7 linked regions of the Homo sapiens genome follow. The protein of the gene in region 1 interacts with the protein of each later gene in a pairwise test. Each region holds a gene or a part of one and is shown in the gene's direction. Other genes may lie near its edges. The genes, in order: NPDC1, KRTAP4-1, CPT1A, FHL5, PLSCR1, HINFP and MAL.

Region 1 (4,939 bases):
GAGCCGCACGGGAAGGAGAGGTCGCTGGCGGCATCGTTTGCTGCTCCCCAGAGACAGACCTGGGCCCTTCCCTCTGGGACTCCCAATCTGGACGGGGTTCCTGGCTTGCTGTGGGGCATGTTGAGGCCGGAGGCTGGGCTTGTGGGGCTGCACGGCCCTGCCCAGGAGAACTCAGCACTGCCTGGACGGCGAGACTCAGCTTCTGAGCTGAGGGCTCTATCAGGCCTGGAAGTGGACCCTGGGGAGGGGTGGGGCAGGGTAGTTCTGATAAGTCCTAGGACTGTTCGCTTCCGGGTTCTGAGCCCTGGCGTCAGGGAGGAAGGGCATGTCCAGAACAATGGCCAGAACCAGGCCCGGCCAGCTCGGGGGGTGACGGGGGCGGGTGGCTGGGGCAGCGCTGCCGTGTGCAGGGGCCGAGCCCTGCGGGGCCGTGAGCCGGCCCTGCCTTCTGCTTCCTTCCCAGATGTAGCCGCCTGTCCCGGGAGCCTGGACTGTGCCCTGAAGAGGCGGGCAAGGTGTCCTCCTGGTGCACATGCCTGTGGGCCCTGCCTTCAGCCCTTCCAGGAGGACCAGCAAGGGCTCTGTGTGCCCAGGATGCGCCGGCCTCCAGGTACGAGAGCAAAGGGGGAAGTCGATGGGGGGATGTCCCTGCATGAACCTCTCCCTGTAAGAAGCGGCCGGCTGGGCGCGGTGGCTCATGCCTGTAATCCCAGCACTGTGGGAGGCCCAGGCTGTTGGATCTCATGAGGTCAGGAGTTCAAGACCAGCCTGGCCAACATGGTGAAACCCCGTCTCTACTAAAAATACAAAGTAGCCGGGTGTGGTGGCACACACCTGTAGTCCCAGCTACTCAGGAGGCTGAGGCAGGAGAATTGCTTTAACCCGGGAGGCGGAGCTTGCAGTGAGCCGATTCACCACTGCACTCCAGCCTGGGCGACAGTGCGAGACTCTGTCTCAAAAAAAAAAAAAAAAAAAAAGAAGGCCGGGAGCAGTGGCTCACGCCTGTAATCCCAGCACTTTGGGAGGCCGAGGCGGGCACATCATAAGGTCAGGAGATCGAGACCATCCTGGCTAACACGGTGAAACCCCATCTGTACTAAAAATACAAAAACAAAATTAGCCGGGCGTGGCGGCGGGCGCCTGTAGTCCCAGCTACTCGGGAAGCTAAGGCAGGAGAATGGCGTGAACCCGGGAGGCAGAGCTTGCAGTGAGCCGAGATCGCGCCACTGCACTCCAGCCTGGGCGGCAGAGCGAGACTCCGCCTCAAAAAAAAAAAAGCAGCAGCCTGCAGCCTCAATGCCCAGGCCTGTGCCAGGTGGTCTTGGGGCCCCTGGACCTTGTGGGGTGTTGGGTCCAAGGCCTGGGAGATCCTCATTCACTCTCCACGAAGCCTCCCATCCTTTCCAAATGGAGGTGGGCCCAGGCCTGGGGCAGTCAGGCCCTCCCAGGAGAAGGGCTGCACGATGTGAAATGCTGGGATGGCCACGGGAGAGGAAGGGCCCATTCTCCCCGGGCCTGGGCTCTGCAGGGTCTGCCCAGAAGCCCTCCAGGCCCCCACTTCCCCGTCCCCAGGCAGCTTGCTCTTTTCCACCACTCACTGTCCTGTCCGCCTGTTGGCAAATGTTGAAGGGTGCCAGCACTGGCTGGGTGCTGGGGATGCCCCGCTCGCCAGCCTGAGCCGCATCTGTCGGGATGGCCAGTCACTGAGTGACTTCAGGTGTGGTGAGGGCTTTGCTCAGAGGTGCTGGGGGTGGGAGCAGCAGCGGCTTCCTGGAGGAGGTGTTGAGAGGAGCACCGAGAAGTGGCTGTAAGGGTCTGTGTGGATGCACCTCCTGCCAACCTGGGAGCGTCCACCCAGACTGTGCAGCCCACAGTGGGTACCGGTGGAGCCCTGCCACCAGCCCCACCCCTGACAGCTGCCCCCGTTCTCCCAATGACCTGGGGAGGGGTCCCGGGTGCTTGGCTTCCTTCGGCTTCCCCCCACTCCTTGGGGAGTCCCTGCCCCTCTACCCGAGAAGGTGCTTGGAGGTGGGGAAGCAGAAGGGGCTGTGCTGGCCAGCCCTTTATGGACATGGGTTGGGGCGAGAGACCCCACTCCTTCCTCCCCGTGCCCGGTCTTTGGACGTTTCCCTAGCGCCTCCTCCCTTGCCCTGCCTCCACTTTCCGGGAAGCACTGCCCCTCACAGGAAGCGCCCGCGCTGTCACCATGGCAATCTGGGAGGGAGAGGGCCTCCAGGCGTGTACCCAGTCCTCAGGCTCCTGGGAGGAACCTGCCAGAAGCGGGGAGGCCGGGCCTGGGGCTACCTCCTGGACGGACCCCTCCACCTGATGGCCCCTCACCCTCCCCAGGCGGGGGCCGGCCCCAGCCCAGACTGGAAGATGAGATTGACTTCCTGGCCCAGGAGCTTGCCCGGAAGGAGTCTGGACACTCAACTCCGCCCCTACCCAAGGACCGACAGCGGCTCCCGGAGCCTGGTGAGACCCCCGCTTCCCCTGCCCCACGGCCCTGTCCCTAGCCCAGTGCTCTCATTCTAACCTGTCCTCTCTCGCAGCCACCCTGGGCTTCTCGGCACGGGGGCAGGGGCTGGAGCTGGGCCTCCCCTCCACTCCAGGAACCCCCACGCCCACGCCCCACACCTCCCTGGGCTCCCCTGTGTCATCCGACCCGGTGCACATGTCGCCCCTGGAGCCCCGGGGAGGGCAAGGCGACGGCCTCGCCCTTGGTAGGTCTTGGTCGGGGGTGGGCAGGGGCAGCAGGGCGCCCTGCAGAAGGCCGCCCTCACACGCCCCCTCCTGCAGTGCTGATCCTGGCGTTCTGTGTGGCCGGTGCAGCCGCCCTCTCCGTAGCCTCCCTCTGCTGGTGCAGGTGAGCCAGTGGCCGCGGGCAGGGCAGGGAGGGTGCCACACGCTCAGAGGTCTCAGGCCCCACTCCCCACAGGCTGCAGCGTGAGATCCGCCTGACTCAGAAGGCCGACTACGCCACTGCGAAGGCCCCTGGCTCACCTGCAGCTCCCCGGATCTCGGTGTGTGGCCCCCTTCAGCCCTGAGGCTCCCGCCCAACTCTGGCCGCCAACTGACCCTCGCCTCCTCCTTCCCACAGCCTGGGGACCAGCGGCTGGCACAGAGCGCGGAGATGTACCACTACCAGCACCAACGGCAACAGATGCTGTGCCTGGAGCGGTGAGTGGCCGCCCCGGCACTGCCACCCCCACCCACCCACCCCCCATCCCCACCTCCACCTCCATTTCCACCTCCCCTGGCCAACTTTACCCCAGGCCCTGCCACCCTCACCTGCACGCTAACCTTCACCTCCCCCGCCGCCCTGCACCCTCACCTCCCCTGGCCAACTTCACCCTGGGCTGTGCTCCCCTGCCACCCCAGGGCTGAGGTGGGCTGAGTGCCCACTTCCAGACTGGGCCACTGGCACCTCGAGGGCATGGGGAGGACCCAGCGATCCCCCCCCACCCAGGCATAAAGAGCCACCCAAGGAGCTGGACACGGCCTCCTCGGATGAGGAGAATGAGGACGGAGACTTCACGGTGTACGAGTGCCCGGGCCTGGCCCCGGTGAGTGCCTCAGGGTGCAGGGAGGGGCGAACCATCTCCTGGGGTTCCCTCCCAGCAAGTATCCCCCCAGCCCACCCACTGCCCAGCCTGACACCCACATTCGCAGACCGGGGAAATGGAGGTGCGCAACCCTCTGTTCGACCACGCCGCACTGTCCGCGCCCCTGCCGGCCCCCAGCTCACCGCCTGCACTGCCATGACCTGGAGGCAGACAGACGCCCACCTGCTCCCCGACCTCGAGGCCCCCGGGGAGGGGCAGGGCCTGGAGCTTCCCACTAAAAACATGTTTTGATGCTGTGTGCTTTTGGCTGGGCCTCGGGCTCCAGGCCCTGGGACCCCTTGCCAGGGAGACCCCCGAACCTTTGTGCCAGGACACCTCCTGGTCCCCTGCACCTCTCCTGTTCGGTTTAGACCCCCAAACTGGAGGGGGCATGGAGAACCGTAGAGCGCAGGAACGGGTGGGTAATTCTAGAGACAAAAGCCAATTAAAGTCCATTTCAGACCTGCGGCTTCTGCCTGTGTTGCCAGCTTGGGTTAATCTTCCACCGCCTCATCTCCCATTTGGGGCCCTGGTAGACGGACCCCTGAGTGGGGGGCCTGGGGTCTGCTCTTGCACCCCCAGAGGGAGGAGGCCTTTCTGTTCGCTCATTAGGAGGACCTTCCCATCCCGTGGAGCTGGAGGAGAGGCCACGGGATCATCCCCACCCTCCTCAGCCAGGCCTCACCCCTGCAGACCCTTCTACGCAGGTGGGAGAGGGGAAGGGTGTAGTGTAGGGCTGGGCCAGCCCAGGGTTGGCTCTGCGGCCCGGAAGACCCCATCCTGTGTGATAAAGAGGGCTGGAGCAGGTGATAGTCCACACGCACCTGGATGTGGGTGCCCACCACCTCCAGGCAGAAGGAAAACAATGCAGACATTGAGTCTGGGTTTCTCATGGGGACCACGGCCGCCAGGCCCTGCAGCACACGGAGGAGGGATGGCAGGCAGAGGTACCTGTGTGATACCAGCTATGCAGAGCCAGGTGGACCCAGGGGGCCAGGTGAGGGGTGTGATGGGAGGGGCCTGGACGCCTGGAGCTGGGACTTGGCCACTCCTAAATTTGGAGCAAGAAGGCCCCGAGGGAGGAAGGGGAATCATGTGGTCAAAAGTGCCCAGATCAGGCCAGTACCAGGTCAGCGTGCGGGGGCTGAAACTCTCTGTCCCACTGATGCTGGGGACGTAGGAGGACTGGGTTCAGAAGCCCCTCAGTGGTTGTTAGGAGTCTGGAGGTCCAGGCACCTAGACAGCCCTGGCGTGTTCGTGTTATTAATCAGGGATCTCTTTTTATTTATTTATTTATTTATTTATTTATTTATTTATTTATTTTTGAGACGTAG
Region 2 (3,472 bases), on another chromosome or scaffold:
AATGGATATTTTTATGCCATTTTATGCCTAACGAACTGAATTTTCATAATTTTTATATATACCCCAAATAGTCATAAAATATGTCCATAAAAATATATTCTAAATATGTTCTTGTATCCTTCCTTCCATCCCCTCTTCCCTCCTTCCTGAATAACTCAGTCTAAATAGAAAGTAGGTGTCTGCATGGGATAGGGATGGCCTAAAGAGATAACATTCTTAATTTCTTTTTTTAAAAATTAATGTCGTCTTGCACTTATAGAAAAATTGCAAGAATAGGTCAAAGAGGTTTCTTTGGTGATAAAAAGAAAGTGATGCTTCACTGCCTCTGAGCACTAGTGTGTGTTGCCTACATCAAGGGCTTTCCCCTCCGTAAACACAATAGAATTTAAAATCAGGCTTTATTCTTGCAAACAATGTTGCAAAGAATACCCTTGAACTTACATCTTGGAAGGTATGTATAGGTGCATCTGTTGAATACATTTCTAGAAGTGAAAAGGCTCAATCAAAACACACGCACATTTCAAAATATGCTAAATTAATTTAAGATACTGTTAAATTTCAGATTCTGTTAATTACCATCTAAAGAAGTTGCCTCAATTTAGATCCCTGCCAACTGTGTATTAAAATGTCAATGTCTTTATAATTTCACCAATTTATTAAAGTTTTTAAACTTAAATATTTTACATTTGTCATTACAAATAGCAAGTATTCACTGCCATATCCCGAGAGCATGCAGTAGAACCTGGCACACAGTAGGTATTCGGTAGATGGTTTGATGAGTGAATAAGTTGTTCAATTAAAATACCTTAAATTATGAGTGAGACTAAACATCTTTCAGAAGCTCAAAAGGCACTTAAATTTCTTTTTTTAGTGAAATCACTGTTAATATCCTTTACTCAATTTTCTGTTTGGTTGTTGTTGTTGTTGTTTTTCTCATTGGGTTGTAAGAGGTATTCATGGATTAAGAAAATTAGCTCATTTATTTGTAGATTGGTTAAGGTATTATTATTTATTTTCAGCTTACTCTTTAGCCTTCTTGTTTTTCAATCAGGCATTTGAGTTTTTTTCTGTTGTAAATTTTTTTCAATCTTTTTCTTCATTGTTGTTAAGTTTTTCTGTATTAGAAAATCCACTCCACTTCTAATATTTTAAGACAATTTCTGCTGTTTTCTTCTAGTTGTTTCACAGTTTATTTTTCTCAGAAGAATCTTCAGAAAACAAGAAACATCATCCCATTTGAGGACTGCTGTGAGACACACAGTTTTCAGGATGACACACAGAATGCTGAGTTCCAAGTGATCTGTCACCTGACAATCGACTGGATGAGTAAGATTACAAGTCTTTGAAATTAAATGACACACTAAATTAACTGAAGACAAGAGGAGGAGGAAAGACTGGATTGGCTAAACTCTAACACAGAGAAAGAATAAAAGTGCATTCCACCTTTTATACAGATATTTTCCCACAATTAGCTAACTTGATAATTGCCTATCTATTAAGATAAACAATAACAAGGAAATAGCTTTTATGTGGTGACAACAGCTCCTCAGCTGAGTATAAAAGTGGACATGGGATAAGGAGATTCCCACATTCGAAAAACTCACTGTCTTGGAAACCTACCTAGAACCTCCACCCTCTGACACCATGGTTAACTCTTGTTGTGGCTCTGTCTGCTCTGACCAGGGCTGTGATCAAGGCCTCTGCCAAGAGACCTGCTGCCGCCCCAGCTGCTGCCAGACCACCTGTTGCTGCCCCAGCTGTGTTGTATCCAGCTGCTGCCGCCCATCCTGCTCTCAGACTACCTGCTGCCAGACCACTTGCTGTCGCCCCAGCTGCTGCCACCCAGTCTGTTGTCAGACCACCTGCCGCCCCAGCTGTGGTGTGTCCAGCTGCTGCCGCCCACTCTGCTGTCAGACCACCTGCCACCCCAGCTGTGGTATGTCCAGCTGCTGCCGTCCACTCTGTTGTCAGACCACCTGCCGCCCCAGCTGTGGTGTGTCCAGCTGCTGCCGTCCACTCTGCTGTCAGACCACCTGCTGCCGTGCAACTTGCTGCCGCCCCAGCTGCTGTGGATCCTCTTGTTGAACCTCATATTGGACTATCAACCATGAGCCAGTCACCATCCCATGATATGAAAGTGTCATTTATATCAACTTGTCCATGTGTTAAATGGCCATCAGCTTTATTATCCTGTTATTCCACTAAGTAACTGGTGAAAGGGCATCCATCTACATTTAATACCACTCATTTTTCCCATGGATCTCTTCCCAGCAGCATTCAGACCTCAGATGCATGATGCAGTTAGACTAAGCCTCTAAGTTTCTGACTGTTATGCTTGATTTGACCTTCAAAATTACATATTAACTGTTCTTCAATAAATATTATCTTAATATCAGTAATTCTTTTCTCTTTTTTCAATTTTTTTGAGAATTAGTTGTCAGTTTATTTTTTAGCATTACTTCTCTCAAGATAAAGACAAATTTGGGTTACCACGACCAGGAAAGAAAACTGATTTTGTAAATATAATGTAATGCTTATATTATAGAAAGGACTTCATAAATTTTTCAAAATAAGATAACTCGCTGTATTTAACTAACAAAAGTTTCTTATTCAGTCAATGAAATTATTGATCATCTGTCATGTTCATTGCACTGTTGGGCTCTGGAGATCACATCAAGATATGTGAGGCACAGGAGCTTCCTAAAAGGAGCTCACCGTCTAATCTTGGAAATAAGAGGAAAGAGCAAAGTAGATAGATTGTGCTGGGTAGTACTGATCAGAGGAGAACTTTCTGTCTTGGGGAAGAGTAAGACATTAGGAATATACATATACACACATTTAATAATAGAATGAGTTAAGTTGGTACAGGGAAGATGTGCAGGTCACAGACCCATGAAATGAAGAGGAGGAAAATATAGGAAAATGTTTACATTCTTATGAGGACAAGACTGAGATGAGCTAAGAAACAGTTGGTGTTGACCAAATTTGGTGGAAGTTAAACCTCACTGGCCTCATCCCATCACCTCTATGTTAATGGTACTATACTAAAAGTCATAGGCAAATGAGAAAGCTCTTAGTCAAAGATGGAGCCACACAAGGACAAGGGAATATCCTCTTTGGGGAAGAGTCAGGGAGGAGTTGGGTAAGGGTTTGAATGGTAGGCAATGATAGAGTTGTAAAAGAGAAGGACTCAGGCTGTAATTTTAAGCTGTGAGCTAAGAATGCACTCTCGGGATATGCTTAGACTCTACAGCTTTCTTGTATCTCAGGTAAACTTGGTCATATTCAGACAAGCAAACCATATGTCTCCTGTAGCCACATGGCTTTGCTTATTCTGCCTGATGTCACTTCCACATGAAAAAAAAATATACTTGAGCAAAATACAGGATTTAATAGAATAAAAATTATCCTCAGGAAAGGACCAAAAAAATTATAGATGTTCTAAAATGGGGAAATAATATTCTTTTCAATA
Region 3 (4,224 bases), on another chromosome or scaffold:
TGTCTTTTACCTAAGACATCATTTTAATTCTTAAAATTACCAGGTTATTTGAAAACCACAAACCCCTGTCCCCCTGCCTGCACCTGTGGATTGGCCTCTACCATTGTTTTTTTTTTTTTTTTTGAGACAGGGTCTTACTCTGTCACCCAGACTGGAGTGCAGTGGCACAATCATAGCTCACTGTAGCCTTGACCGCCCAGGCTCAAGACATTCTCCCACCCCAGCCTCCCAAGTAGCTGGGACTACAGGTGTGTGCCACCATGCCCAGCTAATTTTTGTATTTTTTGTAGAAACAAGGTTTCCCCATGTTGCCCAGGCTGGTCTTGAACTCCTGGGCACAGGGGATCTGCCTGCCTGGGCCTCCCAAAGTGCTGGGATTACAGATGGGAGCCACCACACTCAGCCTTTTTTTTTTTTTTTTTTTTTTAATAATTCGTTACTCTGAACTGTTTGACCTGTTCCGTGTTTGGCATGAGAAATTAAATGAAAGTTTTGTTTCCTTAACTCACCGGTCAGGTTCTTGTTTAAAGTTGCTAAATTCTAGGATCATCATCCGTAGACTTGACACAGAAAATACTGTGGTCACTTGTTGTGATGAGACTTGAGATCTTTTTCTTTTAAAGCAACAAGCCCCTTTGAGATTCACATTGACTATAAAGACCATCTTTTTGCAGTGTTTTAAATTTTCCTGCTGGCCTAATAAATGAAGTGGAATAAAATGACCTGAAAGTCACGGCGTGTGTGGGAGACAGGGCCCAGCTGCAGGCTGAGCACCTCGCTGTTCTTGATAGGGCATGGAGCCGGGTTTGTGTGTCTGAAATTAGAAATTAGTAGTGGCCAGGCGCGGTGGCTCACGCCTGTAATCCCAGCCCTTTGGGAGGCCGAGGCAGGCGGATCACGAGGTCAGGAGAACGAGACCATCCTGGCTAACACGGTGAAACCCCGTCTCTACTAAAAATACAAAAATTAGCCGGGCGTGGTGGCTGGCACCTGTAGTCCCAGCTACTCAGGAGGCTGAGGCAGGAGAATGGCGTGAACCCGGGAGGCAGAGCTTGCAGTGAGCCGAGATCACGCCACTGCACTCCAGCCTGGACGAAAGAGTGAGACTCCATCTCAAAAAAAAAAGAAAGAAATTAGTAGTAAACTTGTGAAGACATCATAATGTATGACCTTCTTTTTTCTTTAAACTTCTGTGAATGTTTTGAATTTTGACTTTTTTTTTTGAGATGGCGTCTTGTTCTGTCACCCAGGCTGGTGTGCAGTGGTGCGATTTCAGCTCACTGCCACCTCTGCCTCCCCGGTTCAAGTGATTCTCCTGCCTCAGCCTCCCGAGTAGCTGGGATTATAGGCACATGCCACCATGCCCGGATAATTTTTATATATATATAAACCTGACCTCAAGTGATCCACCCGCCTTGGCCTCTCAAAGTGCTGGGATTATGGCATGAGCCACCACGCCTGGCCTTGACGTTTCTTTTTATAATATTGTGTCTGTCTATTTTTCCCCCAAGAGATAAACAAATTCTGGTGCCAGTTTTTTCTTGCAAAGTCTTCGCACTCACTCTCCTCTCTGCCTGGAAGGCTTTTCCCCCTGGCTTCCCCTGGCTCCTGGCCCCGTCAGGTCTTCCTTAGGTCTCAGCTGACCTCACTTCCCCTAGGAATGGCACTGCCCTGCTACCCTCTCCCAAGACTAGGTTAGGGGCTCCTGTCTCATCTTCCTCTACCTCTTTTAATTGTCTTACTTCTGGTTGGAGTCTTGGCAAAACCTCCAGCCACTCCTTCAGCCAAGGGAGGTTTTCTATGTAGGAAAAAGGATAAAAAGGAAAAAAAAAAACATAGTGCTCTAGGCTTTAAGACACCAGTATGACCCTAGGACATTAATACCTGATAAAAAGCAGCCAATATTAAAAGGGCTTTTCACCACCACCAGGGTTCTTTGGCGATGTCGACAAAAGCTGAGAGAGCCTTTTAGCTACAGAGCGCATTGAAGATCAAGCTGCCTTCAGTGTCTCTGGACGTAGCAAGAAGGCACGCTTTAATAAATCTCTGCACAGCATAATAGCCCGGGCTTGTTATACCCCAGGCCAAGGACTTCCCGAGTCCTATATGCCTAAGAGCTGTTGTTTGGCAAAAGAAAAAGAGTCGGGACCATAGGCAGCTGGATCACACAGGGTACATTTATCAAGTAGAGAAATCTACTGGATATTTACAAGATCAGGCTTGTTTTTTAAAGTTCTCTGGATAAGGATAAAGGGATTTTATCTTAGACCAGGGTGGGCACGTAGAAGTAGTGGTGTTTAGTTGTTAGCGTCCAGCAGACAGGATGGCCTGACTCCAGGGACCCCTGGCTGGGGGCTTATGTGATCCATACACAGATGGGGACTGACCTAGTCTCACATGGGGGCCCAGTGCAGTCCCTTAAAGACAGATCTAGTCAAACTTGAGTCTGTTTGTTCTTGTTCTTGTTCTATTTTTATTTTTTATTTTTTGAGACAGGGTCTTGCTCTGCCACCCAGGCTGGAGGGCAGTGGTGCAATCTCAGCTCACTGCAACCTCCAACTCCTGGGTTCAAGTAATTTTCCCACCTCAGCCTCCCGAGTAGCTGGGACCACAGGTGTGCGCCACCACGCCCAGCTGATTTTTGTATTTTTTGTAGAGACGGGGTTTTGCCACATTGCCCAGGCTGGTCTCGAACTCCTGGCTTCAAACAATCTGCCTGCCTCAGCCTCCCAACATGCTGGGATTACTAACATGAGCCACCACACCCGGTCTTGCTCTTGATTTATTTCTGATGTTTCTGTGTCAGGCTCTTCTGGAGCTCTGACCCAGAGCAGGTGGAACCTGATCAAGTCTGTTCGTTCGCTGGCTCAGGTCAGCCTGGATTGTGACCCCCACGTATTAGCGGCACCTTCCACCCGCCCCGCCGCCTCGCCAGCCGACAGTCACCCCGACCTTGTGTTGTTGTTTTTACCTCCCTCACTAGAATGTAAGCTTCCTGAGCACAGGGATTCCTCTTTTAAAAAAACTTAATTTTTTTAGTTGAGATATAAGTCACATACCTTAAAATCCACCCTTTAAAAGTGTACAATTCAGTGGTTTTTAGTATATTCACGAGGTGCTTGTGCAACAGTCACTGCTTAGCCTCCCGAGTAGCTGGGATTACAGGCGTGCATCGCCACACCCACCTAATTTTTGTATTTTTGGTAGAGGCGGGGTTTCCCCTTGTTGGCCAGCTTGGTCTCGAACTCCTGACCTAAAGTGATCTACCCGCCTTGGCCTCCCAAAGTGCTAGGATTACAGTCGTGAGTCACAGAGCCCAGCCTAATTCTGTACTATTTTTATCACCTCCAAAAGAAATCCCTCATTCCTTTCTCCCCCAGGTTCCTGATGACCACTAATCTTTCTGTGTGTATGTATGTGCCTATTTTGGACATCTTATATAGATAGAATCATACAATATGTGGTCTTCTATGTCTGGCTTCTTTTTTCTTTTCTTTCGCTTTCTTTTCTTTCTTTTCTAGAGACAGGGTCTTGCTCTGTCGCTCAGGCTGGAGTGCAGTGGCACAGTCATGACTCATTGAAACCATGACCTCCTGGGCTCAGGTGATCTTCCCACCTCAGCCTCCTCAGTAACTGGGACTACAGCCATGTGCCACCACACCTGGCTAATTTTTAAAATTTCTTGTAGAGATAAGATCTCACTATGTTGCCCAGCTGGTTTGGAACTCCTGGCCTCCAGCAATCCTCCCACCTTGGCCTCCCAAAGTGCTGGGATTACTGAAGTGAGGCACCGCGCCTGCCTGCTTCTTTTCACTCAGCATAATGTTTTCAAGGTTCAGTACGTTGTAACACATACCTGGAATTCATTCCTTTCTAGGGCTGGATAATATCTCATTGTATGGATTGACCACACTTTGTTTATCTCTTCATCAGTTGATGGGCATTTGTGTTGTTTCCACTCTTTGGCTATTATGAATAATGCTGCTCTGAACATTCTGTACAAGTTTTTGTGTGAGCATCTATTCATTTCATTTCAGTGAGTATGTACCTAGGAGTGGAACTGCTGGGTCATACAGGTATATTTCACTTTTTAAGGAAGGGCAAGAATTCTTGTCTGTTTTGTTCACAAAACACAGTTCTTGTCTGCGCTGTCACCAGGGCTTGGATGCCGCTGATGCTACAGTGGTTCCAACCCATAGTAGGTGCCCAATAAACACCGTTGAA
Region 4 (4,224 bases), on another chromosome or scaffold:
GCTTAACTTCCTTAAGATCTTCCTAGGAAGGTCTCTCCTCACTCTCCTTTCTATTATAATAGTTCTCTAAGAATTCTATATGGTTCTAATAGAGTGTGTATCATTTATATAGTTATAATACCTCTATTTTTAAGAAACACTATTTGGATGTATTCAAAGATCAATAGTTAAATGATAGACTTCATGAAAATGAGGAATGAATTTCTTAGTGTATTTTTTCTAACCAAGAAGAAGAGGATAAACATTCAGTTTGCTCACTTACCTCAAATTACATTAACTATTACTAAGATACGAGCTATAAGATAATCCAGACTCCTTGAGTGGGCAGGGAGTTCAAATCACTAAGTAAATATTCAAGAAATGTTGACCTGAACCAAATGCTTCCTCCCACTGTATAGTCCTACAAGTATAAAATCACAAGGTTTTGAGATATTAGACTGATTCTGTTCTCACCCTACCCAACTCCCTGATGTTGCTTTTACAAAACAGAATTGAATAAGAAGTGAATTTCTTCTTTCCAGAGGCCAGGCGCGGTGGCTCACGCCTGTAATCCCAGCACTTCGGGAGGCCGAGGTGAGCGGATCTTGAGGTCAGGAGATTGAGACCATCCTGGCCAACACGGTAAAATCCCATATCTACTAAAAATACAAAAATTAGCCAGGCACGGTGGCATGAGCCTGTAGTCCCAGCTACTCAGGAGGCTGAGGCAGGAGAATGGCTTGAACCCGGGAAGTAGAGGTTGCAGTGAGCCGAGATCACACCACAGCACTCCAGCCTGGGCAATAGAGCAGGACTCTGTCTCAAAAAACAAAACAAAACAAAAAATTAAGAAATATGGTCTATATTGTAAGGCATTTTCTGTGGATCCAGGCCTGTTATGTAATTAGGACTGGGGTGGGAGAAGGACCGTCTTGTCTTATATTTAGACTTCTGATCTGATCACTAAATAAGTTACAGGTATTTTGATGTTGTCATGTTTAAAGTGTCATTTAAAATAAACAATTGAAATATTATCAATTTGGTAATCCCTTTTGTGGTTTTATATGTTTTATATATTCATTTTATAATACACTAAAAGCCTCACAAAATGGCAGTAGACTGCAGTTCCTAACCCCTGAGGGGCCGTGTTTCATGATGCTATTATACACATCTAAAACTAAAATAAATATTAATGAAAACGACGTTTTCCATATTAAGTGAAGAGAGTTAAAGGTACATATTTTATTTCTATAAAGTGACAAACACTTGATCGCTGTAAATGTGAATACAACTTTTATTTTTAAACCTTTCAAGGGAATTAGATCTATTTTCCTGCTGTTTCCAAGCCTTCGGTAACCCTCTGAGTGTGTTTGTATTCACTAGGAAGGAACATTTCTGTGGAATTAATCAAATGGAGAATTCAATGTTCCTTTTAGATAATTTTGGCCATGTTCCATTGCGAACTTTCTAGTCTGCATTTCATCTCTTTCCTGGGAAAAGACCCACATATTCCAAATCCTCTGCCTTTTCTCTACTTGTTAGTGAAGAACAATATAGCAAAACTGCTATGTACAGAATTAATAATCATGTGCATTCAGCAAGGCTCTCTGCTGGGAATTTCATCACTAGAATAAGGCAAAACGCATGAGAATAAGAGTTCAAATGTAGTCAGTACAAACTAGTATCAAAAACTCTGTTGTATTATCGTTAATTGCTCCTCTGATTTTGCTAAAATTAAAAGAAAAATTATGTGGGGGGAGAATTAGAAAATATTCAAAGCTCCTAATATATTCCAGTAAACCCTGAGATGACAAATCTCATTTTCCAAGGAAAAGCAGTGCTAATTTTTTTTTGTAACAACAAAGAATTCATGTTCAATGCCTAATTAAAACCTGGAAATCTATATGCGTTGTTTCTTTTTTTTTTTTTTTTTTTTTTTTTTTTTTTTTTTTTTGAGACGGAGTCTGGCTCTGTCGCCCAGGCTGGAGTGCAGTGGCACAATCTCGGCTCACTGCAAGCTCCGCCTCCCGGGTTCACGCCATTCTTCTGCCTCAGCCTCCCGAGTAGCTGGGACTACAGGCTGTGCATTGTTTCTTAATGGCTTTCCAAATTTACAAAACAATCAGAGTCCTTATCTATCACTGGCTTTATGTTTCATATCAGCTTTTTTATTCATCTTACAGAATGCATTTTGCCTTGCAGATGAATTCTAGCTATTTTATCCATAGCTATAATGGAATAGCTGCTGCTATTATTTATGCTCTATACATGTTACTTTGGCCCTAAAGCCTGAAGGAACCCATTGTTGTTTTCTACCACTGATGATTTTATCTGCACTTCTGCATCTGGGCAATTGTTCACAATAGTCACAAAGACCTAGCACTTGGTCTGAGAATCCTACCTGCTGAGGAGTTTTATTTGGCCAGTTTGGTAAAGGACATTTAAATGAAGATATCTAAAGCTAGCAGAAAACAGAGATTTTGGAGTCATCAGCACATTTGGGATGGTGGAAGCCACAGCCAAGGAGGGGATGTAGTACACGAAGACCTCAGGGTAAATGTGCAGAGCCCTTATTAGGTATTCAGTAAAGACTTGAGGAGTAAAAGAATGAACTAGAAAATGACAATGTACTGATTATTAATTTATATTTGAGTAAAAAAGACTGTTATTTCCATCAAAATCTGCCTCTAGAATTTTCCAGCAAGAAAGTAAGTGATGATAGTTATTAAAAGCCCTAGCAACAGTTTATATCCTTGAGGTAAAACCATCCTGTTTCAACAGATACCATATTCTCATTGAATTCCACATTAGCTTATGATAAACACAAGATGTTTTTCATAATCTAGATGCAGGTTTTATGCATTTTTTTTTAGCAAAACATACAGGGAACTGCCAAGATGGGAGAGTAATCTTTCCTAAATCACTCCAAATGTCACCATGACTATAAGCATACTTTCCTAAATTGGGGGATTTTTGCTTAAGAAAATATAAGTTCATTCAAATGCTTCACTCACATTATATTAAGGTTTCATCATTTATCCTATAAACAAAATTCTGCTTTTATATACATTAATCACTTTGTCATTCATAGGATCAAACCAAAATGACAACTGCTCACTTTTACTGTCAATACTGCACAGCATCACTTCTTGGGAAGAAATATGTACTAAAGGATGACAGTCCATACTGTGTTACATGTTATGATCGTGTATTTTCTAACTATTGCGAGGAATGCAAAAAACCAATTGAATCTGATTCTAAGGTAAGTCTCACCTCAATTTACAGAATTACTGCCTATGAACAGCAAACAAGTGGGTTGGAGTGCCTCTTTTCATTTAGTGTTGACTTTCAACACTATTTCTCTGCTACTGGATATATAAGGATCTTAAAAGTTACCAGCAGTCAAGCTCCAGCCACTACACTTAGCACTATGAAATACAACATATGCTTAATCCTCACATGATCTTCTAAGGTAGCTGAGAATGCTAAAGATTAAAGGGGTTAAGCTATTTGTCCAAAGTTACACAGCTAGAATTTTCCTGCTGTTTCCAAGCTCTCAGTAACCTTCTGGGTGTGTTTGTTATTTCTGGAATGACAAGGGTATAAATAAATGCATAAAGAATTGAAGTTGAAAGGATTCAAAATCTGTTTTCTGATGTAAAATCAGCTTCATTTCTTACTAAACCCTATTGATACCTCTCACACCTACCACCCCTTCCTCCGACATGCTTATTCTTTCTTTCTTTCTTTCTTTCTTCTTTTCTTCCTTCCATCCTCCGATTATTTTCCTCTCTCTTTCTCTCTCTCTCTCTCTCTCTCTCTGTCTCTTTCTTCCCTCTTTCTGCCTTTGTTTTACTTAGGTGATGTTATTTTTTGTCTGTTTAGTTACATCTCAAAGAGTAATAGAACATTGCACCCTAAAATTTTTAAAAATCATTCCATGAAAAACCTCTATTATAGTTTATAAAAAGAATATAGGCAAATTTTGAAGACACAGCAGAGAATGTATTTGTTTTTTCCCAGCTGCCTTAAGTGACCCACCAAGAAAGCCCTGGGCTCTAGCTCTTAATTACCCCAGAGAGTCTCCTCTCTATGGGTAACAGTTTCAGTAACAACTTTCCCTCACGCTACTAGCACAACCTACTGACATGAGAGTCCCAGGAGTGTTCAGTTTTGTTTCATAAAATGGCCTGTATTGTCACAACCACATTTAATTAACTTTTATTTACTGTCTCAAAGGATCTT
Region 5 (4,224 bases), on another chromosome or scaffold:
GAAAAGAAACTTAAAGGTTATGTAAACCAATGTTGTTTTACAAATAAGCTGGAGATTTTTGAGATTAAGCTACTTAATGTAACAATTAATTAGATAATGAATGTCCTCTCAAAATCAGCTTAACTTTTTTCTCATCAAACATTTGACTATTTCAGATGTTGAAATCAGACGTTGTTCCTATAAATGCAGAGTACAGGGTCTGTCTGTGTCCCACCAAGGACACTTAAAGGAGTTCATGGTGGTAAGACTTGTGAAGGCCGTCTTTATCCGACTCAGAGTCTTTCCACATAGGCATTATAGAGTGACTTTTCCTCCATATATTTATTTTAATCACTCATTATTTTAGCCAGGCTTCTGACATCTATGACCCCAGTTACTGAGGACTATGTACAAATGGGACAGTTATTGCTCCTTTCTGGCTTTAAATATGGAGAGGTTTCCAATGTATGGTTAGATATGGAAAGCCCTTGATACAAAGTATGTGAGTGTCAGCATTTTGCAGCCATCTGTTTCCCTCATGAAGATAGATTAGCCCAGCAAAGGTGCAGAGTTCACTTAGGATTCCCACGGTCTAGATATTCTGTGAGTTGAAGCCTTGGTTGCCGAACACGTTTGTCTAATACCCACCTCCCACTTCTGAACAACTACTGTTGAGTTGAATAAGGATGCCCTGGGTCCAATGTGACATTCTAATTCATCTTTCATTTTTACTCCCTCGGTTTTTATGCGTGTACATTGCCTTCTTTCAAAAGCATTGCAAAAAAATAAGACATAAGTAAGGTTTATAAGACAGTCTCAAACCAATTGATTTAATATAAAATTTCATAGCACATAAACAGCAATCCTCTTATATTCCCCTCCACATTACACATAAACTATCCTGCATTAGTGGACATTTTATCTATACACCTAGCACCACCGTGCCCACCCACAGCATTGCCCCAACTCTCAGCAGAAAAGTCTCTCTTCTGACAGACATTTATGGAATTAGGAAAATATAACTTGTTTCCAGTGTCTCACATAATGAAGGGATGGGTTGCCCCTCCACACTTGTGGGTGTTTCTTGTTAGGCGGAACGAGAGACTTGGAAAAGAAAAGACACAGAGACAAAGTATAGAGAAAGAAAAATGGGCCCAGGGGACTGGCATTCAGCATACGGAGGACCCGCGCCAGCACCGGCCTCTGAGTTCCCTTAGTATTTATTGATCATTATCGGGCGTTTCCCGGAGAGGGGGATGTGGCAGGACAATAGGATAATAGTGGGGAGAAGGTCAGCATGTAAACACGTGAACAAATGTCTCTGCATCATAAAAAGGTAAAGAAAAAGGTGCTGTGCTTTTGATGTGCATATACATAAACATCTCAATGCCTTAAAGAGCAGTATTGCTGCCAGCACGTCCCACCTCCAGCCCTAAGGCAGTTTTCCCCTATCTCAGTAGATGGAATATACAATTGGGCTTTACACCTAGACGTTCCATTGCCCAGGGACGAGCAGGAGACAGATACCTTCCTCTTATCTCAACTGCAAAGACGCGTTCCTTCCTCTTTTACTAATCCCCCTCAGTGCAGACCCTTTACGGGTGTCGGACTGGTGGACGGTCAGGTCTTTCCCTTCCCAGGAGGCCATATTTCAGACTATCACATGGGGAGAAACCTTGGACAATACCTGGCTTTCCTAGGCAGAGGTCCCTGTGGCCTTCCACAGTGTTTTGTGTCCCTGGGTACTTGAGATTAGGGAGTGGTGATGACTCTTAACAAGCATGCTGCCTTCAAGCATTTGTTTAACAAAGCACATCCTGCACAGCCCTTAATCCATTTAACCCTAAATTGACACAGCACATGTTTCAGGGAGCACAGGGTGGGGGGTAGGGTTACAGATTAACAGCATCTCAAGGCAGAAAAATTTTTCTTAGTACAGAACAAAATGGAGTCTCTTATGTCTACTTCTTTCTACACAGACATGGTAACAATCTGATCTCTCTTTTCCCCACGGCATAAGGACTTAATTTCTCTATACATTGGTAATCTCTCCTTTTTTTTGCCATTTTTCTCTGTCTGGATCATCTCTAAACATCATTTCTTCTCCTCCTTATGCCACTTGGGGTATCATCAAAAACTGGCATAGCTAGATATTATAATATCTGGATAAATTCAATATTTTTAACATAGAGGTGATTATGATTTCGTCTTTTATGTTTTTAGTTTTAACAGGTTTTGAAACTAATAACAAATATGAAATTAAGAACAGCTTTGGACAGAGGGTTTACTTTGCAGCGGAAGATACTGATTGCTGTACCCGAAATTGCTGTGGGCCATCTAGACCTTTTACCTTGAGGATTATTGATAATATGGGTCAAGAAGTCATAACTCTGGAGAGACCACTAAGATGTAGCAGCTGTTGTTGTCCCTGCTGCCTTCAGGAGGTCTGTGATCAATTACCAGGGCACTTTGTAAAATAGTTCAGCAAGAATTTCTGCCCTGTCATTGAACCTTTCATCGAACCTAGGCATTATGATTATTACATTTACATATATTATTTTGCCTTTGTAGATAGAAATCCAAGCTCCTCCTGGTGTACCAATAGGTTATGTTATTCAGACTTGGCACCCATGTCTACCAAAGTTTACAATTCAAAATGAGAAAAGAGAGGATGTACTAAAAATAAGTGGTCCATGTGTTGTGTGCAGCTGTTGTGGAGATGTTGATTTTGAGGTAAGAGATGTCATAATGTTTATAAGATTTGCTTTCCTAATATAAGAAGAATGTAATTTTGCAGGACATTATAAATGCATTAAATAAGTGTTGTGTGCCAATGTCTCAATAGCAAGATGATTTTCTCATTTATTTAACTTTGGGCAGAGTGGTAGTTATCACTCTGATTAAAGGTCACTGTTGGTCATGAGAAATGGAAAAAAAAGAAGCAGACCTATGTAGTCAAATAAAAATAAGCAAATCATCCCTCACTTAAACGTGGTGGTTTCTATGTGATGACACTGTATATTATCCATTTTAAACAGAACGTTAACCTTGCCATCTAAGTCTGATTGCCAAAGCATATGGATCCTTCTTAAATCTGAAATATCATCTGCCAATGCTCAAGGCCATGTTCAGAATGTCTGACATCTTTGAATTCCTACAAGAAGCCCAATTATGCAAAGATAGTTTTGAGAAAATTAGTATAATATGTACTACCCAGTTATGCTTCTCTGTGGTCTCTCCTTTTCCCTATATTAAATTAGGTCACTAGAAGCTGCAACATATTAATATTTGTATATTTACTGTAATACATTGTAGAATTTCATTAGAGTAGCTCTTCAACAACAGATGGTCTACTTTTACAATCCAAATTTTTTCATTGCAAATGTTTAAAAATCAGAAGGTTTTATAACTTAATCTTGATTTCTTGTTTCTCTTGGAAAATCAGAAAATTGGGTTAACTGGGCCCACCTTTCCAACAAAAGGGTAAAAATCTACTAAAGATGTGTGGGGCTGCCCCTTGTAATAATGACATGGGAACTCTACCACTGTCTCCACCCCTTACTGAGGTTTTTCAATATCCAGTGTCATTCATTTATGTGATCTGCCTGCCTTCTTTAATCACATGGTATTTTATTCCTCCGTCAGACTTTAGCTATATAAAGATGAATCCTTTCCCCCATTGACTTCATAATCTAATGACAGAGATTTGCAGTTCTAAGGAGGATGTGATATAGAAACTTTAAAAAGGCTCTTATAAGGGGATTATATAATGTGTGTATGTATATGTGTGCATAATATGCATGTATAAAAATTTTATGTAAGGGTATGCATAATAGCAGTTCTTCATGTAAGGGATGGAATCTCTGTCCTACATCCAGAGAAGTGAAAAGTAATTTCTCATTCAAGGAACAATATTAACAGAAGTTTGGCTGGCATATATTTTATTTTTAGTAAATAAATGAAAACACTGGAAAAACATTGTGTAATCCTTGTATTTGATACTAAAAAATTTATGTTTCATCTGGCAGTCTTTCTTGATGGATACCTTAAAGCATCCATTCCATGTAATAAATTAACTTTTCTTCTATTTATCTAGAATGATGATATCAAGGTACTCTCATGGAAAGAATTGAGAAATAGTCACTTGAAGAATTTTCCATAGAGTTGACAATGGAAACTTTGACACCTCAAAGCAGAAATTATCAGTATGAGGGACCACTAAGGAACATGAAATCCACCAGGGTG
Region 6 (4,224 bases), on another chromosome or scaffold:
AGGTTGGAGTCCAGTGTCATGATCATAGCTCACTGCAGCCTTCAACACTCAAGGGATCCTCCTGCCTCAACCTCCCGAGTAGTTAGGACTGCAGGCATGTACCACCACCACACGCCAATTTTTAAAAAAATTTTTTTTAGAGACAGGATCTTGCTTATGTTGCCCACTGATCTCAAACTCCTGGCCTCGAGCAATCCTCCTACCTTAGCCTCCTAAGTAGCTGGGACTATTGGCTTGTGCCACCAAGTCCAACCCCACTCCCACCTTCCAATTTTTTTTTTTTTTTTTGAGACGGAGTCTTGCTCTGTTGCCAGGTTGGAGTGCAATGGTTCGATCTCGGCTCACTGCAGCCTTTGCCTCCCAGGTTCAAGCAATTCTCCTGCCTCAGCCTCTTGTAGCTGGGACTACAGGCGCGCGCCACCACGCCCAACTAATTTTTGTACTTTTAGTAGAGATGGGGTTTCACCATGTTGGCCAGGATGGTCTCAATCTCTTGATCTCATGATCCGCCCACCTCGGCCTCCCAAAGTGCTGGGATTACAGGCGTGAGCCACCGCACCTGGCCCCATCTCTCACTTTTTAACCTTTGTCTGACTTATGTTTTAGGTATGCCTTTTATCAATAGCAAATAACTGGGATTTTAATAAAATCCAATCTGAAAACAATAACAATAGTGAACTGTATTCTATAGTACCTACTGTGTGTTAAGTATTGCTGGGTACTTTATTTTTTTTTTGAGATGGAGTCTCATTCTTGTTGCCCAGGCTGTAGTGCAGTGGTGCAATCTCGGCTCACTGCAACCTCTGCCTCCTCGGTTCAAGCGATTCTTCTGCCTCAGCCTCCCGAGTAGCTGGGATTACAGGTGCGTGCCACTACGCCCGTCTAATTTTTTTTTGTATTTTTAGTAGAGACAGGCTTTCACCATGTTAGCCAGGATGCCCCTGTTGGCCAGCCTGGTCTTGAACTCCTGACCTCAGGTGATCCGCCCGCCTCAGCCTCCCAAAGTGCTGGGATTATAGACGTGAGCCACCATGCCCGGCCAGTACTTTTTTAAACCTACATTAAAGCACTATTTCCCAAAGAGCCTATGAGATAGGCACTATTATTATTATTATTTATTATTATTATTTTTAGATGGAGTCTTGCTCTGTCGCCAGGCTGGAGTGTGGTGGTGCGATCTCAGCTCACTGCAACCTCCACCTCCCAGGTTCAAGCAATTCTACTGCCTCAGCCTCCCGAGTAGCTGGGATTACAGGCACATGCCACTATGCCCAGCTAATTTTTTTTTGTATTTTTAGTAGAGACGGGGTTTCACTGTGTTAGCCAGGATGGGATAGGCACTATTATTATACCCATTTTACAAATAAGGAAACGGAGGCACAGAGGAATAAAATAACTTGCCCAAAGTCACGGTACTAATAAGTGTGGCAGGATTTAAAAGAAAAAGGAAAAAAAAAACTTTTTTTCAGAGTAAGATGGAGTCTTACTCTGTTGCTCAGGCTAGAGTGCAATGGCATGATCTCGGCTAATTGCAACCTCCGCCTCCCGGGTTCAAGTGATTCTCCTGCTTCAGCCTCCCAAGTAGCTGAGATTACAGGTGCCCGCCACCACGCCCGGGTAATTTTTGTATTTTTAGTAGAGACAGGATTTCACCATATTGGCCAGGCTGGTCCCAAACTCCTGACCTTGTGATCTGCCTGCCTCGGCCTCCCAAAGTGTTGGGATTACAGGCGTGAGCCACTGCGCCCGACCAAAGCCACTTTTTTTTTAGAGACAGAGTCTTGCTATGTTACCAGGTTGATCTTAAACTCTTGGCCTCAAGTGATCCTCCTGCCTCAGCATGCTGAGCAGCTGGGACTATAAGCATAAGCCACTGCATCTGGCAGGAATACATTTTTCTTTTCTTTTTTTTTTTTTTTGTGGGAGTGCAGTGGCTCGATCTCCGCTCACTGCAAGGTCCGCCTCCCGGGTTCATGCCACTCTCCTGCCTCAGCCTCCCAAATAGCTGGGACTACAGGCGCCCACCACCAAGCCCAGCTAATTTTTTTTTGTATTTTTTAGTAGAGACGGGGTTTGACTGTGTTAGCCAGGATGGTCTCGATCTCCTGACCTCGTGATCTGTCTGCCTCGGCCTCCCAAAGTGCTGGGATTACAGGCGTGAGCCACCGCACCCGGCCCAAAATGTGGTTGATAGTTCACTGAACTGATTTCCTAACCCACTAGTGGGTCACAACACAGTCTGAAAAACTCTATTCTACAGGAAATATGGAGGCAGCTCTCCTTCTCCCACCCCAAATTCTGTTTTAAGTCTGATGACTATGAACCATAATTGATAGTTTCAAAATTCAAGTCATATTTATACAAAGGCAAAATTGGGGAATGATTATATTTTCTAAAGTATCTGTGTTTCAAAACAAGTTAACTTATATAAAGCGCTGAAAATACAGTGCTTAGGGATGCTAGAGAGATAGGAAATGGATTGGAAGAGTTGATGGGGCCTTCTTGGAGAAGGCAGATCTTGAGCAAAACATGAGGGGAAGGAGGAGTGGTGGTTTTACAAGGAGAAGTGGGAGGTGTCAGATCGAGAGGCAGCATCTTCATCAGGAACTGCAGAAACTCAAGTCAGAGGACTTGCGTGCCGGCCATTTCTGCTGTCTGTTTCTGGCATAGGCCTTGCACACACTCTCACCTCTGCCTAGACCACACTTCTTCACCTATTTACAGATACTCATCCATCGTACTTCAGAGTTCAACATGGGGACGTTTCTCAGAACACCATGTCAAATGACCTCTGTTTAATGCTTTTATAGCACCATGTATATCCCCGCTTTGTAACACTCATCACTGGTTGCAGTTTTATATTTATAGATCTGATTATTTGATGAATATGCTTTCTCCCTGACTGAAAGCTATGTGAGGGCAAGGAGTGGGACACTTTTTACTTGTTATAGTCCCTCTAACTGGCACACAATTTATGGTCATTAAATACTGGTATTTGCTAAATGAACCCTGGTAATTTGGTTAGAGTCCAGCCTCCTCACGAGTCCAGCCTCCTCACTCTCTGTTTAGTGCTGCAGGTGGAAGGTGACCTGAGCCTTGGAAAGTGTCAGACTCTTCCTTTTAAACCCCTTTCTACAGAGGAAGAATTCTCCTGCTTGTGGCAGGAATGTGGCTTTTGTTCTCTGGACAGTTCTGCTGACCTCATCCGCCATGTCTACTTCCACTGCTACCACACCAAGCTGAAACAGTGGGGGCTGCAGGCCTTGCAAAGCCAGGCTGACCTTGGCCCCTGCATCCTGGACTTCCAGAGCCGGAACGTCATCCCTGATATCCCTGACCACTTCCTGTGTCTGTGGGAGCACTGTGAGGTCAGCAGGCAGTGCCAGTAATTGGGGTGGAAGGAAGCTGGGGGTCTTAACTCTGATGCCTTGTCCCTTTCAGGGATGCCTTATATTTCCAAGATTCCTGCTAGTATCTCTCTTCCATTTCTTTTGCTCTTTTAAAATTTGTTTATTTTTTACACACAGGCTCTTGATCTGAAGCCCAGGCTAGAGTGCAGTGGTACAATCATAGCTCACTGTAACCTTGAACTCCTGGGCTCAAGCAATCCTCCCACCTCAGCCTCCCAAGTAGCTAGGACTACAGGCATGTACCACCATGCCCTGCTAACTTCTAAATTTTTTGTAGAGACAAGGTCTGGGTGTGTTGCCCAGGCCGGTCTCGAACTCTTGGCCTCAAGTGATTCTCCTGCCTCAGCCTCTCAAAGTGCTGGGATTACAGGGTTTAGCAACCGCACCCGGCCACTCCTCCATTTCTGTGCAGTGCCTTTCCTCAAAATTTCCCATCCCCATCAAGTTAATTTGGGAGAGAGCCAAGAATTCTTCGGGCACATAGGGGTGAGTCCCTCTACCCACCCTCAGTCCTCACCCCAAGTTGCCCCTGGCACAGAATTCCTTCGACAATCCTGAGTGGTTTTATCGGCATGTGGAAGCACACAGTCTGTGCTGTGAATACGAAGCAGTCGGCAAGGACAACCCGGTGGTGCTGTGTGGCTGGAAAGGTAGGGCTGCTTCTTAACTTGTGGCTTCTGGAGGAAACGCTGGGGTTCCTGAAGAGCTGGGACAGAAAGGGATAGGGGTCCTACAGGGGCAAGGTTGACTGCCGGCTGGAGAGACTCAGGGGTACCAGATCCTAGGCAAAACTGGGGTTTTGTGGCAGGAGACT
Region 7 (4,224 bases), on another chromosome or scaffold:
TTGGTCCTCCTGGGAGGGTCACGTAGCCACCAGGCAAAAGGCACTTAGGAGAGGGGTTCCCAGGCCAGGGCCTCCCTCTTCCCACTGGATGTGCCCGCTGGATCCTCCTCCTATTTCTCCATGCCACCCTCGCATGCCTCCTGAATCCAAGCCCTGCCTGTACCAATGTGCTCCTGTCCCTCCGTCAGTGCCCGTTATGGAAAAGGCCACATAATCTGTTGAATCTTAAACTCAACTGTGGATGAAATCTACACACACATCTTATTCCATGGTGGTCTGGGCATTTTTATTTAATTGATTTTGCTCCCATTTTTGTAAGATGCACAGTGCATCCCACCGGCCCTGCCACGTGCCTTCAGGCAACCTAAGATCCATCAGCAGAGGACGCTTTCTGGTCAGAGATGCCCACATCTGATTCCTTAGGGACAACTTGGTTTTAATAAATCCAAAGTCTTCATTGCACTGATTTTTCTACCCAAATGCAATTCTCTCCTGATTGCTTCTCAGTCAAGCAGCTCAGAGAACACCTGTGAAGACAGCGGTATCTCTCACCCAGCAGGTGGGCAGCAGGTGCAGGGAGGTGGGGGGGTCAAGGTGCTATGTGAATTCAAACCACAGGGGACATAGGCCTGGGAGGGCAGCCCCATCCTCAGCCCCCCAGACACTTCTGTAGTACCTTGGAGACTTTTGGCTGCAAAGGAATCTCCACATAGGCCTGGAGTGCTTCGAGCCCAGTCCTCATCCAAGTGGGGAACATGTGGATGAGGCTGAGCTGATTCTTACTGGGTGGGGGTGGCGCTGGGGGAGATGAGGAGAAGGGAAAGAGAAGTGCAGAAAGTCCCCGCTGGGGTTTGTACACGCCTGTCCACAGTGAGGAACGGAGTTTGTACGTACCCATCCGCGGTGGGGAGCGGGTTTGTATGTGTCCATCCACGGCGAGGAGCGGGGCTGGGCTACTGAGGGGTGCTACTGGCCCCCATGTCTGCTCCTCTTTGACTGTATGGGGCTCACTGACCCTGGCGACATCAACTGGGGTGTATTCTGGATAACCACGGGACTGTACTTTCCTCATGCCCATCCTCAGCCATCCAAAGAGACAAGGCTGTCCTTGGTTACTCCATTCCAACTCCAAATCTGATCATCAGAACACTTCCTGGACTTGGGAATATAAACAGTTGAATCCAGAAAAAGAAATAATGAGCAAGAGAAAGAAAGAGAGAGAAAGAGAAAGGGAGAGAGAGAGAGAAAGAGAAAGGGAGAGAGAGAGAGAAAAGAAAGAGAGAGAGAGAAAGAGAGAGAAAGAAAGAGAGAAAGAGAAAGAAAGAAAGAGAAAAAAGAAAGAAAGAAAGAAGAAAGAAAGAAAGAAAAAGAAGGAAGGAAGGAGAGGGAGGGAGGGAAGAAGAAATGAAGGAAAGAGAGAGAGAGAAAGAAAGGAAGGGCAGGGCAGGGGACTACTGACAGTGTGGTTAATTTGTTTTGCCAAATAAAGACCAAAAAGATCTGCTGGTCACTACCATTGCATAAAGGAAAGGACATTTTAATATCAAAGCAAGTAGGAGGGCTAGAATATCAGAAGAAATAGCAGCTCTTCTCATGACAATACCAAATGGCATAAATCCTTTCTCAGAATGATGAATTACTTAACTTCCACCTACCTCAGTTTCCTCATCTGGCAAACAGGTCAGCATTGCTCAGAGGGTTACTGTGAGAATCACTGAGTTATTATTTGTAAAGTGCTTAGGATAGTGCCTGGAATGTAGGTCTGATATAAGTGTTTGTTAAATAAAAAAATTAAACCCATATTTAAAAAGTTACTCAGGCCAGGTGCAGTGGCTCACGCCTGTAATCCCAACCCTTTGGGAGGCTGAGGAGGGCAGATCACCTGAGGTCAGGAGTTCAAGACCAGCCTGGCCAACATGGTGAAACCCCGTCTCTACCAAAAATAGAAAAATTAGCTGGGCATGGTGGCATGCACCTGTAATCCCAGCTACTCAGGAAGCTGAGGCATGAGAATCACTTGAACCCAGGAGGCAGAGGTTGCAGTGAGCCACACGCCACTGTACTCACGCCTGGGTGACAGAGCAAGACTCTGTCTCAAGAAAAAAAAGTTTTAAAAAGTTAATCAGGGCAAGCGTGCCGGGGATTGGGATTGAGATCCAGCACAGGGCCCTGGGGGGACTAAAGATGCATTTTTGCAGAGGAAAATGCCTGCCCTGTTCTCTTTGCCTGCTTCCTGTGTTTTTGCACTCCAGTCACCCCATGTGACCGCTGGTCGGGGGCCCTTCCTGGGCTGGGGCTCTCCTCTAGGCCAAAACTCACCCCTCCTCCTCCCCCGCAGATCTTCGGGGGCCTGGTGTGGATCCTGGTGGCCTCCTCCCTGGTGCCCTGGCCCCTGGTCCAGGGCTGGGTGATGTTCGTGTCTGTGTTCTGCTTCGTGGCCACCACCACCTTGATCATCCTGTACATAATTGGAGCCCACGGTGGAGAGACTTCCTGGGTCACCTTGGTGAGTCCAGCCCAGGGTGGCTGCTGGTTGTAGGGGGGCGCAGGAAGTACTGGTCCCTGGCCCAGTAGGATGGGCTTTTCCAGTGCCAGGTGAGACTTCTCCGTAGATGTCACCCCACCATGTTCCAAGGCTGAGCCTGCCCAGGGCTCCTGGCAGCAGAATCAGGAGAGGCAGGGGCAGAGGCAAGGTCGCCGCTGCCAACCCTCACTGGACCTGTTCTGTGTTCTCCTGCATGACTGCCTTTCCATGGATAACCAGCTGCCCAGCCCCCACACCACCTGTACCCGCCAGGTGCCTGCCTGCCCCTCCCATCACCTGCAAGGGCTGTTTTCACCTCAAGGCAGCAGGGCCCCAGAGGCCGACCAAGGTGTTGGGCTCCAGAAATTGGCCCTGGCTCTGAGGGTCAGGCCATGCTTACTGTCCAGCTCCTCAGCCACTGCCTTCCAAGCAGGGCTGCCAGAGAGCACTGGGAAACAGAAGCGGCCTTTGGTCATTATTCTGTATAAATTCTGCTTTGAGACCCATGAAAAGGTAACTTTTACATGTAGGACACTTGCCTGTTACCTGCTGTAGGGGTGGTGGGGCCATTTGGCCAAGGCTGTCACTCTCAAAAGCTCTGCTACTTAGACTTTTGAAATCACTTCCAAATCACAACTACACAAAACCCTGTTTTAGTACCTTTTTGCTTTCATTTATTACTTTATTTTGAGTTGGGGGTCTCATTCTGTCACCCAGGCTGGAGTGCAGTGGCGCAATCTCATCTCACTGCAGCCTCAACCTCCCAGGCTCAAGTGATCGTCCTGCCACAGCCTCCTGAGTAGCTGGGACTACAGGCATGTGCCACCACACCCAGCTAAGATGTATTGTTTTGTGTAGAAATGGGGATCTAACTATGTTTCCCAGGCTGGTCTCAAGTCCTGGCCTCAAGAGATCCTCCTGCACCAATCTCCCAAAGCTCTAGGATTACAGTCATGAGCCACCACGCCCAGCCCTTTTTTGCTTTTAAATATACCAGGGGCCAAAAATAAGCAATGAAACAAAACAAAACAAAACAAAACAAAACGAAAGAAACAGCATGGTCCTCCCTCACCCTGCACTGGTCAGCGAGGCCACACCCAACCTGGACTGTGGCCATGCACGACACTTCTCAGATCCAGGACCAGCTTTTCCCTGGGACACCCCAAGCTGCTGGCCCTTCCTCCACCTCTCCCTTGACCCTTCCTCAGGGGAGACCAGTGTCCCATCCCCAGCAAAGTGCTCACTCTGGCCCCACAGCAGTGAAGTGAGACTCAGCACAGCAGGGCAGGCATGGGACCTCCGTGACAAGGTTGGGAGGGGTGGGATTCAAAGGAAGTGGGGGGAGAGGCAAGGGGCGGGGGTGGAGGGGACCTCAGCTCTGCATCTGGGCCCCGTCTCTCTCTCCCCATCCCTCTGACACCCCGTCTGCCCCATAGGACGCAGCCTACCACTGCACCGCTGCCCTCTTTTACCTCAGCGCCTCAGTCCTGGAGGCCCTGGCCACCATCACGATGCAAGACGGCTTCACCTACAGGCACTACCATGAAAACATTGCTGCCGTGGTGAGTCCGGGCACCTGGGGCTGTGTCCACAGCGGGCGGCTCCGTGGCTGGCAGGGTGTGTGTGGAGGCTGCCTAGGCCCTTGGTCTGTTTTCAGTTCACTAACTTTTGAGTGAGGTCAAACCTTGCCTTCATGCCTG

The links.
Region 2: the proteins of NPDC1 (region 1) and KRTAP4-1 interact in binary tests that used the Homo sapiens proteins (3 or more experiments, as listed by UniProt).
Region 3: the proteins of NPDC1 (region 1) and CPT1A interact in a two-hybrid assay, tested with the Homo sapiens proteins (one large-scale study listed by BioGRID and IntAct).
Region 4: the proteins of NPDC1 (region 1) and FHL5 interact in binary tests that used the Homo sapiens proteins (3 or more experiments, as listed by UniProt).
Region 5: the proteins of NPDC1 (region 1) and PLSCR1 interact in a two-hybrid assay, tested with the Homo sapiens proteins (one large-scale study listed by BioGRID and IntAct).
Region 6: the proteins of NPDC1 (region 1) and HINFP interact in a two-hybrid assay, tested with the Homo sapiens proteins (one study listed by BioGRID).
Region 7: the proteins of NPDC1 (region 1) and MAL interact in binary tests that used the Homo sapiens proteins (3 or more experiments, as listed by UniProt).

What each region holds. Positions count from the first base shown.
Region 1 is NC_000009.12:137,038,598-137,043,536, reverse strand, and holds the end of NPDC1 (neural proliferation differentiation and control protein 1 precursor), read left to right. Parts: intron 1-463; coding exon 464-610; intron 611-2,349; coding exon 2,350-2,475; intron 2,476-2,552; coding exon 2,553-2,723; intron 2,724-2,799; coding exon 2,800-2,866; intron 2,867-2,938; coding exon 2,939-3,023; intron 3,024-3,100; coding exon 3,101-3,180; intron 3,181-3,469; coding exon 3,470-3,566; intron 3,567-3,672; coding exon 3,673-3,765; 3' UTR 3,766-4,074; downstream 4,075-4,939. UniProt on the Homo sapiens protein: Suppresses oncogenic transformation in neural and non-neural cells and down-regulates neural cell proliferation. Might be involved in transcriptional regulation.
Region 2 is NC_000017.11:41,183,027-41,186,498, reverse strand, and holds KRTAP4-1 (keratin-associated protein 4-1), read left to right. Parts: upstream 1-1,587; 5' UTR 1,588-1,644; coding exon 1,645-2,085; 3' UTR 2,086-2,399; downstream 2,400-3,472. UniProt on the Homo sapiens protein: In the hair cortex, hair keratin intermediate filaments are embedded in an interfilamentous matrix, consisting of hair keratin-associated proteins (KRTAP), which are essential for the formation of a rigid and resistant hair shaft through their extensive disulfide bond cross-linking with abundant cysteine residues of hair keratins.
Region 3 is NC_000011.10:68,775,695-68,779,918, reverse strand, and holds part of CPT1A (carnitine O-palmitoyltransferase 1, liver isoform), read left to right. Parts: intron 1-4,224. UniProt on the Homo sapiens protein: Catalyzes the transfer of the acyl group of long-chain fatty acid-CoA conjugates onto carnitine, an essential step for the mitochondrial uptake of long-chain fatty acids and their subsequent beta-oxidation in the mitochondrion.
Region 4 is NC_000006.12:96,600,532-96,604,755, forward strand, and holds part of FHL5 (four and a half LIM domains protein 5), read left to right. Parts: intron 1-521; exon of another isoform or gene 522-621; intron 622-3,070; 5' UTR 3,071-3,082; coding exon 3,083-3,241; intron 3,242-4,218; coding exon 4,219-4,224. UniProt on the Homo sapiens protein: May be involved in the regulation of spermatogenesis. Stimulates CREM transcriptional activity in a phosphorylation-independent manner.
Region 5 is NC_000003.12:146,520,032-146,524,255, reverse strand, and holds part of PLSCR1 (phospholipid scramblase 1), read left to right. Parts: intron 1-2,202; coding exon 2,203-2,423; intron 2,424-2,550; coding exon 2,551-2,712; intron 2,713-4,224. UniProt on the Homo sapiens protein: Catalyzes calcium-induced ATP-independent rapid bidirectional and non-specific movement of phospholipids (lipid scrambling or lipid flip-flop) between the inner and outer leaflet of the plasma membrane resulting in collapse of the phospholipid asymmetry which leads to phosphatidylserine externalization on the cell surface.
Region 6 is NC_000011.10:119,127,587-119,131,810, forward strand, and holds part of HINFP (histone H4 transcription factor), read left to right. Parts: intron 1-764; exon of another isoform or gene 765-862; intron 863-3,069; coding exon of another isoform or gene 3,070-3,138; coding exon 3,139-3,368; intron 3,369-3,948; coding exon 3,949-4,060; intron 4,061-4,224. UniProt on the Homo sapiens protein: Transcriptional repressor that binds to the consensus sequence 5'-CGGACGTT-3' and to the RB1 promoter. Transcriptional activator that promotes histone H4 gene transcription at the G1/S phase transition in conjunction with NPAT.
Region 7 is NC_000002.12:95,045,621-95,049,844, forward strand, and holds part of MAL (myelin and lymphocyte protein), read left to right. Parts: intron 1-264; exon of another isoform or gene 265-527; intron 528-894; exon of another isoform or gene 895-1,158; intron 1,159-1,655; exon of another isoform or gene 1,656-2,338; coding exon 2,339-2,506; intron 2,507-3,960; coding exon 3,961-4,086; intron 4,087-4,224. UniProt on the Homo sapiens protein: May be involved in vesicular trafficking from the Golgi apparatus to the cell membrane. Plays a role in the maintenance of the myelin sheath, and in axon-glia and glia-glia interactions.